Linked DNA regions of Homo sapiens: region 2 is linked to region 1. The links come from fine-mapping of genetic effects on gene expression. Tissue or cell type: testis. Region 1 holds a variant in brackets; the other region holds the start of a gene. All regions are shown on one strand. Distances are from middle to middle.

Region 1 (5,126 bases):
CCTCCCCAGACCCCAGGCTCCTCCCAGCTGCACCTGGGCTCCCTCTGGGCCTCAGCTCGGATCTCTTGGCTTCCCCCCACCTGCCACTGGCCGATGCTTTCCACGCGCTGGCCGAAGGGCCGCTGCAGCCCGGTGCACAGCTTGAAGGCGTCGCTGCGGATCTCAATGAGGTTGTTGACCAGGGCGCACAGCGCCGCCAGGGGGAAGGCGGACGAGAAGAGCACAACGTAGCCGAACTGCACGAACATCTCCTGGTAGTCCTGGAACGTGTCCTGCGAGTGGGCGGGCCTCAGACCTGGAAGCCTCTTCCCTGGGACAATCTTTCTCCCATTGAGCCCGCCTCCCTCAGATTATCCCATGTGGACCCAGGGCCTGTCCCCATCCTCAGCCAGCCCAGAGGCTTCCTGTATCTGGCTAGGCCTTCCTCTCCTGCAGCATCCCAACATCAATGGCCCTGTTATCACCACTCCCACCCCCACGGCCTTCACCCTCGGACGGTGTGTCCCGTCCCCGGCGAGGCCCCGCCCCCTGCGAGGCCCCGCCCCCTCCTCACCTCGTACTTCTTCATACAGCTCTCCAGCTCTGCCTGGGTGAGCTGGGGCGAGTGTTCCTCCTCCGGCGGGTCAATCCAAGACGACCGGTTCTGCCGTCTCTGCCTACGGGTCGAATCGCTGTTGGAGCCGGGTTCCGGGTCCGGGCCCCCGTCGGGCCCCTGGTCTCGGCCCTCGCCCCCGGCCCGGCGGAACAAGATGGCCGGGGGCTCCCGTTCAGGGCTGCCGGGAGCCCCCTCCGCCTCGTCGTCCTCCTCGGCCAGGGTGAACACTCCCGGCTCCAGCCCCTTCTCCACCATAGTGGGGCTCCCTTCCTCCAGGAGGGCCTCCGGGCTTGGGCCGGGCCGACGCCGCCCCGCGCCGCGCTCAGCGAAGCTGACCTTCTTCAGCCGGAGCCCGCAGTCCAGGAGGCCCCCTTCCTCGCCCTCCTCCTCGTCCTCCTCTTCCTCCTCGTCCTCCTCCTCCTCGTCGTCCTCGTCCTCCTCCTTGCCCCCTGGAGGCCCGTCCCCCTCCTCCCCGCCTTCCCCCGCCCGCCGCCGCTCCACCAGCGCCGCCTCCTCCTCCTCCTCCGGCGCCCCGCAGCCCCCGCTGAGGCACCTGCGGCCCCCGCCCCCGCTGCCGCCGCCCCCGCCCTCATCCGCCTGGGGTTCGAGGCGGCGGGGCGCAGGGCGCCGGAGGCTCAGGAGGCCAAGCAGGGCTCGGGCCAGCTCCCAGACGGCCCGCAGGCCCAGCTCGCCGCGGCCCAGGCGCCGGTACAGGTGCGGCTGCAGGACCTCGCGCACGTTCTGGAGGAACTGGCGGGTGATCAGCAGCGTGGCCAGCATCTGGGGGCAGGAAGGGGAAGGAGAGAGGCGCGTGGGGGGCAAGCGGGGCGCCGGGATCGGGGGACTCACCCTCCCTGGGCGCCCCGCCGGAGCACCGTGCCCAGACACACGCCGAATCCGGTTCCTAACTCCGCTGCTTTGGACGCGCCTCGACGCGAGGCCCCCAGCGCTCAGCCACAAAATACAGCCTGGCACGCGCAGCGCTCCTCGCCCACCTCACGGGCAGGCCCAGCGCGTCTCCACCCCACCGCGGGCTCTGTCGGTGCACTGGGCCGCGTGCGCCCCCAGCCGCCTGCACCTGCTTGCTGGCCGCCCCCGACCCCAGATTCCCTCCGCGCATGCGCCCTCAGCTCGGCGCGCCAGGCCCCCAGCACAGCCACGCTGCCCACCCCGGCGAGGACCCACGGGCTCGCCACCTGCCCGTACTTTGGCCCGGGCCGCGAGCAGGAGGCCCCGGAGGGAGAGGAGGAGCAGGCGGAACCGCAGGGCCGCGAGCGGGACCAGCACCGCCTGCAGCTGCCGCTCGAGGCTCTGGGACAGGGACAGGACGAGCAGGAGCTGTGAAGGGACCGACGGACAGATGGACGGACAGATGGGGGGACGACAGGCAGAGAGAGGACGCACAGACGACGGACAACGGACGGACAGACAGGAGAGAAGGATGGAGGAGGGGAGGGAGGGGCTGGAGAGCCCTTGGACCCCTTGTGCCGGGTCTGGCCCCTCGCTGGCCGCCATGGGGGCAGGGGGGACTGCCGCTGGGGCGGGGGTCTCACCTCTTTCAAGCGCTCCATGTCCTTGAGGTAGAAACCGATGTAGAAGAGGCTCAGGTACGAGTTGACAAACTGGAACTGCAGGAAGGAGGCAGGCGGTGGTCATCCTGCACCCCCACCCGACTCCTTGGAGCCTTCCTTGTGCCCCATACAGACGGCACAGCTTCCCCGTTGTCCCCCTGCCTGTCCGATGGTGGTGACTCACCAGGACAACTTTGATGATGAGGTGCTTCTCATAGGCGCTCTCCAGCCGGTAATTTTCTAGGGGCCAAGGGGGGGAGTGAGGGGGCAGCCGCGGTCCCCCCAAGGGTGGCAGGGATCCCAAGGGGCAGTGGAGACCTTCCTCCCAGAGACCCCCTGGCAGGTCGTACCCATGTCATTGAGCCAGATGGCTAGCTTCTTGTAGCCCTCGGCACTCACACTGACAAGCAGGGCCAGCATGACCTTAGGCAGGAATCGGGCGAGACGGGGCAACCCCTTCACGCTCAGCACCAGCTCCTGCGGGAGAAGGGGGTTCAGGGCTCATCCCAGCTGCAGGGCTCAGCCCAAGGTGGAGCTAGGTACCAAGGACAGGGCGGGTGAGGGTATGGGGGGTCACCTGCAGCTGGAAGCAGCCAAGCATGAGCAAGAAGACACAGACGAGGCACGCCAGGCACAGGGGGAGGCTCACAAGCAGCTGGAAGAGCAGCCGCTTCCAGGGCGGGTAGTAGAACTCCTCGGCCCGCGTGATGGGGCTGATACGTCGCACGCCCTGATGGTGGGCAAAGACCGGGCCCAGCATGAGCTCAGAGGGGCCACCTCTGCCTTCTGCACCCCTCCCTATCCTCAGAACTCAATTTCCCTCCATCATGCGGAGGTGACCCTCTCAGGTCACCCACCTAGGGCACTGTTCCCAGTCCCTCAAATCCAACTTCCACCTCTCCCC[C/T]TGGGGAGCACACAGAGCCCGCCTCGGTTTGGCATACCCTCTTTGATGAAACAATCCTGTTTCACACCTCTCTGCCTTTGCTCCTGCAGTGCCCCCCACCATTTACCTTTGTCCTGTCTCCATGACCCTGGACTCAGCCCCCAACTGACCCTGAACTGGGGGCGTGGCTCCTCCACGGCTTCCCCAGGTGAGTCCAGCGTCCCCCACTTATATGCCAGCTCAGCCCCTCTCCGCTTCCATTCCTCTAGGAACAGCGTCGACCAGATCACGTTGAAGAGGGCAAAGACCACGCAGGAAACATCCCGGCTTGTCTGTGAGTGGCAGAGAAGAGTTGAGTCATTGTTTGTGCCAGTCCAGAAAGGAGGGCGCCTCTGGATCCCCCAGACCTTGCAGGGTCCCTGCCCAGTACCTGATCAGCCTCTGTGAATGTGTACAGGACAGACCCGAAGACAGCTGGGTATACCATAGCCGACGTGTAGAAGCCCAGCCAGGCGAAGTACATGGCAATTTTCACACCAAAGTAATCACAGATGTCATCTGCCAGGGGACAAGTGGGTCTCAGTCACCCCCTGCCTGTCTGCTGGGACTCCCTCCCACCCCCCAGCCCAGGCAGCACCTAGAGGCTGGTTTTCACACACGGCCTGCACCCATGACTTCATGAGGCGGTTCAGAATACGCTGCTCGTGGACAGGGAACACCTGCTGGATGATCCCACGTGCTGCCAGCTCCGGGACTGTGGAGGGAGGAGCACAGGTGATCCCCGCCCCTCCACCTGTGCCTAGCCTGGCTAGCCCCTCTTTGTCTGAAACCCAAGTCACAGCTTTTTGCCTGCTCTTAAACCTCTAGAGCTCTTTCCAGGGGAGAAGTTCTAGACGGATAGAAGATCTGATTCTCCTTCAGAAATTGTAGGTGCAGGGGCAGGCGGGGAGAATGTAAAGGAACTGGGAGAGTGGGGTTCTGGTGAGGAACCATGTTTTTTTTTTTTTTTGAGACAGTCTCACTCTGTCGCCCAGGCTGGAGTGCAGTGGCGTGATCTCCGCTCACCGCAACCTTCAAGCGATTATCGTGCCTCAGCCTCCGGAGTAGCTGGGATTATAGGCGCCCACCACCACGCCCAGCTAATTTTTGTATTTTAGTAGAGACGGGGTTTCGCCATGTTGGCCAGGCTGGTCTCAAACTCCTGACCTCAAGTGATCCACCTGCCTCGGCCTCTCAAAGTGCTGAGATTACAGGTGTGAGCCACCGCGCCCGGCTTTTTTTTTTTTTTTTTTTTTTTAGACGGGGTCTAGCTGTGTCACCAGGCTGGAGTGCAGTAGTGCGATCTCAGCTCACTGCAACCTCTGCCTCCCGGGTTCAAGCGATTCTCCTGCCTCAGCCTCCCGAGTAGCTGGGACTACAGGCGCGCGCCAACCACACTTGGCTAATTTTTGTATTTTTAGTAGAGATGGGGGTTTCACCATGTTGGCCAGGATGGTCTCGATCTCCTGACCTCGTGATACGCCCGCCTCAGCCTCCCAAAGTGCTGAGATTACAGGCGTCAGCCACCGCGCCCGGCCTTATTTTTTACTTTATTTATTTATTTGTTTGAGACAGGGTCTCGCTCTGTCACCCAGGCTGGACAGAATGCAGTGGCGCTACCATGGCTCACTGCAACCTCGAACTCCTGGGCTCAAGTGATGCTACCGCCTGGACCTCCCAAAGTACTGGGAGCCACTGCGCCTGTTCCCCTGCTTTAAATAAAGCTCAGTTTGTGGACCCGAACGTCTGAGGAATGGTAAAAACTTGCTGTCGGAAGGTGAACTTGGGTGCCTAGTTTCCTGGAGGGGAATCCAACGCCCAGAGCCGCACCACTCTGTAAGTGGAGTGCTGTCCATGGTTCCTGCCTCCACTTTATCCCAAACCCAGAAAAGGGCCTCTCCTGGACCCACCTCCCAGAAATAAGCCCCACCCTTTGGCCAAAGCCTCGCCCCCTCAGCTCATTGGTTCCCAACCCTTTGCCAACCCCTAACTGGTTGGACATAAGCCCTGACCTCCTGTCCTGATAAGCTGTCCTCTC
Region 2 (5,110 bases), 27 kb before region 1:
CCCTTAAGTAGGTGGAACTATATGCGTGCACCTCCTCACCTAGCTAATGTTTGTACTTTTTGTAGAGCTAGGGGGTTCTCCCTATGTTGCCCAGGCTGGTCTCAAACTCCTTGCCTCAAGATATCCTCCCGCCTTGGCCCCCGAAAGCACTGGGATTACAGGTGTCAGTGGCATCTCAGAGTCTCCCTCTGTCGCCCAGGCTGGAGTGCAGTGACACAATCTCGGCTCACTGCAACCTCCACCTCCTCGGTTCAAGTGATTCCTCTGCCTCAGCCTCCCGAGTAGCTGGGACTACAGGCGCGTGCCACCACGTCTGGCTAATTTTTGTATTTTTGGTAGAGACGGGGTTTCACCACCTTGGCCAGACTGTTCCCGAACTCCCAACCTCAGGTGATCCGCCTGCCTCGGCCTCCCAAAGTGCTGGGATTACAGGCGTGAGCCACGGGGCTCAGCCAAAAACTCAGTATTTTGTGACTGTAGTCCCTGCTGACCCCATCCCTCACCCCCACCCCACATGCCAGGGTTCACTTACCCGTAGGAATGGCCAATGAGCACATTTCGCTTCTTGGCATAGCGCTTGAAGATTGCTCGCATGTCCTCAGCCAGCGCATAGAAGGTGTAGGCTGCGGCCACCTGGGGCGCAGAGCTGGCCCCGTGGCCGGCCAGGTCAGGAGCCACCACCTCATAGCCTAGGCGCACAAAGAAGTCCAGCTGCTCCTTCCAGATGGCCAGGGAACCGCCGACACCATGGATGAAAAAGAGCACCACGTCGGCCTGGGCGCCTTTGCAGCTAGTGATGCGCTTCTCACAGTCAATATGGATGGTCCTCTTGGGGCGCCTGGCTCGCCGCCGCCGCCCACCACTGCCACTGCCGCTGCCGCTGCCTGCGCTGCCGGGGGCCAAGCGGCCATCGCTGCCCGCCGGATCTGCCAGCTCCACCTCCAGGGCGGCCGGCGGCTCCCCAGAGCCATTCTGCCCGTGTAGGAGGTCGGCTCGAGGGGCTCGGCCCAGGTTTTCCACCAGCAACCGCCCATTGCGGTACACGGTGATCCGGCGCTGACAGCGGACCAAGCCGGAGAGGTCCCCCTGGGCTGCATCCGAGGATGCGGATGATGGTGGAGGTGGGGCAGCGGCTGGGGCGGGTCCTGCATGCTTCACCCGCAGCACGCGGCCGGGCTTGACCTCTACAAAGGTGTAGCCATCGCTGGACTCGACGCTCTCCAGTGGCCCCACGGCGTTGGGGGGCGTGCCCAGCAGGCAACAGAAGATACCGTCGGTCACCCCGGTCAGCATGGTGTGTCCTGTGAGTGAGGACAGCAGCCAGTTCAGGTGCTGTCTCAATGAGAACCCTGCACCGTGCAGCAGGCACTCCCTGAGCCTTGGGAGAACTGTTTTAGACTCCAGTTTGGGGAGCGCCAGATCAAGTGAGCCACGGCACTGAGATTTTTTTGTTTGTGTGTGTGTGTGTGTGTGTGTGTGTGTGTGTTTTTGAGACAGTCTCGCTTTGTCATCCAGGCTGGAGGGCAGTGGCCGGATTTCGGCTTACTGCAACCTCCCCCTCCTGGGTTCAAGCGATTCTCTTGCCTCAGCCTCCTGAGTAGCTGGGATTATAGGCAGGTGCCACCATGTCTAGCTAATTTTTGTATTTTTTGTAGAGATGGGGTTTCACCATGTTGGCCAGGCTGGTCTTGAACTCCTGACCTCAAATTTTCCTCCTGCTTCGGCCTCCCAAAGTGCTGGGATTATAGGTGTGAGCCACCGTGCACTGACATGTTTTGTCTGAGCAGTGCCTTTGTGGTAGTTACCCTCCTGGGTCACCCTAGTCTATCCTCAGAGAGAAAGACTTGGCTATGGCTTACCCCACAGGGTGTCCACAGGGAAGGTGGTGGCGTCTTGTGTGGGGATGTTCCTGGAGAAGGGGACATTGTGGCAAATGTGGACCAGCCGGAAGACACCCCCTCCCCCCAGCTGGAGTTTATACCATTTATGGCCTCCTAACTCATTCATTCAGGTATACACTAACTCATCCATTCAGGTATACACTAACTCATTCATTCAGGTATACACTAACTCACTAACTCATCCAGGTATGCACTCACTAACTCACATATCCCCAGGGCCTCCTAAGGCATCTAAAATATGCAAATCTTTGGTGAGCCCCCAGTGAGGCTCCTGGCTCTGAATTTGACTCCTGAAAGGTGAGGCCCTAGGAGAGGGGGATGGGGACTGAGCCACAGAAAGCCTTGCTCAGCTCCCCTAGACCGGGGTGAGCCGGGGTCTGTTTCATAGAGGGCCAAGCTGAGGCCCAGACACTCTGAGAGGAAGCTAGACTCTGAACTTCCTCCTTGGCACCCTGGATTCTGGGGATCTGCTATACAAGTCCCCAGAGGTGGCGAAGAGGATGGGAGAGGCAGGGCCCTGGCTGGGGGCCTCCAAGCCTCCATCCCACTCCTTGGGCCACCCCCGCCCCCGTGTCCATGGCAACCACAGGCGGTTACATAACCTAAGGGGGGGATACCCGAGCAGTGCACCCCCATTGTCGAGGTGTCTAGGGCCTGGAGATGGGACCAGCTGCCTGCCTGCCCCCTACCCCAGGTTGGGCGCCGCTAAGGTAACGCACGCCCGAGACTGAGCCGCAGTGGCCCCAGACATACTGGAGGGGAAGCAGGCCATGCCCCCCACCTCGAGTGGGGCCCTAATCCCGGATTGTGGAGGGCAACGCACAGGCGCCACCCCAGCCCCGCTTCCCCGCCCCCGGCCCCCGCCTTCCAGGTGTTCGTCATCCCTGCAGCGGGGTCGAGCCCACTGGGGCTCCGTGGCTTCCTACGAGCCCAAACGCGGGGTTGGTGGACACCACTCCTCCGAAGTGGAGGCCCCGGGGCTTCGATCTCTCCTTTTGGGGCCCGTTCCCCGCTCACCTCATCGAGGGCCGCGGGGCCCGGGTCGGGGCGGAGGGGTCCCAGGCGGAGAAGCCAGCGTCCGCCTGCTGGCGCCGTTTACATGGTGGCGCGGGGTCAGGCCGGGTGCGTCTACGCGGGCGGGCACCTGCCCCTGGCGGTCAGCGCAGGGGCATCCCGCGGCCGCCGAAACAGCCGGCCCTTTAAGTTCCTCCCCCGAGTAGGCGGAGCCACGTGCCGACGGGCGGGCACTTCGGCCTATCGCAGCTGCGGACTGACCTGGCCTAGTTAGGAGCCCAATGAGAGGCGGCAATTCCGTAGTGGAGGCGGGCTCTGGGAGCAACGGCCCCGCCCCTTTTGGGGGTTCACCGAGGTTGGGGGAGGGATGGGGCCTGGCTCAAGGCGGAGAAGGGGGTTGCAGTCTAGGGTCTGCGGGACGCCTGGGAGTGTGCGGCCGGGGCCCTCTCTCTGCAAATGGGTCTCCCAAGCCCTTGCCCCCCAGCCCCTGCCTCCCAATTGCCCTGTTCCTCTCCAAACGAGGCCCCCATACTCTTCTCTCTGTATTGACCTTTCCATTCTAGAAGCAGAGACTCCAAGATCTTTTTCCAATCTCCGGTGGGGAAACTGAGGCTCATAAAGGGCACAAGAGCATAAATCAAGCAAGGAGCAAAGCTGGGACTTGAACCCAAGGCTGTGTGATTCCAAACCCTGGGAACCATTATTTGCTAACCTCCCCCCTACGCCCCCCCCTTTTCTTTTGGTAGGGACGAGGTCTCGCTATCTTGCCCAGACTGGTCTCGAACTCTGGGCATCAAGCAATCCTCTCGTCTACGGCCTCCCAAAGGGCTGAGATCACTGGCGTGAGCCATCGTGACGGGCTTCTCTAAAGCTTTCAAGGAAAGTCTTGGAGCTGTGGGTAATTAGAGAGTTTGAATTTCATAATCAGCCGATTTAACCCATGGCTGCCATGGTTCTGAGAAGGGCTGATAGCAAGAGGCAGGCATCCCAGCTCTGTGGTACCGGCGGGGCCATGGTAGGCCCTCAGGAGAGCTCAGGTCTCAAATCCAGCCTCTGCCCTTTGCTGATGTGTGACCTCGGGCAAGTTACTTCACTTTCCTGAGCCTCCGTTTATTTCTCTATGAAATTAATCCTCTCATAAGTTTGCTACGCAGGTAAAGCACTCATCATAGTGTCGTGCATATAACAAATGCTCCATATATTATGGGCATTATTATAGTGGTGATGTTTTGCTAAACGATGCTACAGGTAGGATGGGCTTCGGAGGACGAGGGGTTAAATGCTCCTTGCTGCTTGGCCACTCACATCCCCTGGAATTTGCTGCCAGAGCTGGATTCCGTCCAGACACCTACTCTTGCCCACTAAGGGCACTTCTGGGAGACTATACAGTTTATTCATTTAGCAAACACCTCTCTGCATGAACCCCAAGCTGGCACTTGTAGGGATACAGCCCCAGGCCCCTGGCCCTTGAGGAGCCCTTGAACTTGGGGGAGAGTCAAGGGAAAGCAGTCGGGCCAGAAGAATGGACAGCGGTTGAGAGAAGACGACTCCTTTTTTTTTTGAGAAAGGATCTCACTCCGTTGCCCAGGCTGCAGTGCATTGGCGCTATCATTGCTCACTACAGCCTGGATCTCCTGGGTTCAGGGAATCCTCCCACCTCACCTTCAAGTACTTGAGACTATAGGTGGTTGCTACCATGTCCCCAGGCTGGTCTCAAACTCCTGGCCCCAAGGGATCCTCCCTCCTCAGCCTCCCAAAATGCTGGAATTACAGGCATGAGCCACACCTCACTCAGCCCTTGGAGAGGAAAGGATTTTTAAAGGGCGGATAGGGGAACACCAGGCAGAGAGGAGAGTGTGGCTGAAATGTAAGATGGTGTGTGTAGAGGGTTTTGCATGCCTGATGGAAGGGCTGAGCAGGTTTTACCTGGGGAAATGGGGAGCCAAGGATAGTGTGTGAGTAGGGGAGGGGTTCAGATCTGAGTATCAGAAAATTTTTCTTCCTTTTTTTTTTTTTTTTTTTTGGTTCTAACAACAGAGGAGAATTCTTCTAGGGCCCAAAATGGGGGCAAGATTGCCAAAGACAAGCTTGCAATCCCTGAGTTTACAGATTGAGAAAGCCCAGAGTGGCGCAGGGACCACCCCAAGGACACGCAGCGAGCTTGAACTCAGGCCTCCTCGGCTTCCTGCCAAGAG

Evidence for each region. PIP is the estimated chance that this variant, and not a neighbour inherited with it, causes the effect.
Region 2: ABHD8 starts here. The variant in region 1 is fine-mapped to the expression of ABHD8 in testis (GTEx, PIP above 0.99).

Annotation. Positions count from the first base shown.
Region 1 is chr19:17,327,609-17,332,734 of GRCh38, forward strand. ANO8 (anoctamin 8) reads right to left here. Exons shown (of 18, transcript NM_020959.3): 6 at 3,687-3,803; 7 at 3,480-3,607; 8 at 3,220-3,381; 9 at 2,744-2,896; 10 at 2,517-2,643; 11 at 2,351-2,406; 12 at 2,149-2,223; 13 at 554-1,375; 14 at 81-272. Among named protein-coding and RNA genes, the nearest start is that of ANO8, 4.7 kb to the right of the region's middle. RefSeq lists enhancers at 1-272, 273-801, 802-1,329, 1,330-1,857, 1,858-2,385 and silencers at 554-723, 1,193-1,352. The variant C/T (reference allele first, on the strand shown) is at 3,071.
Region 2 is chr19:17,300,324-17,305,433 of GRCh38, forward strand. It overlaps ABHD8 (abhydrolase domain containing 8), which reads right to left and starts at 3,102. Exons shown (of 5, transcript NM_024527.5): 1 at 2,919-3,102; 2 at 533-1,301. The coding sequence starts at 1,293. It also overlaps a transcript of MRPL34 not described here. RefSeq lists enhancers at 638-1,138, 1,139-1,639 and silencers at 1,997-2,291, 2,675-3,224.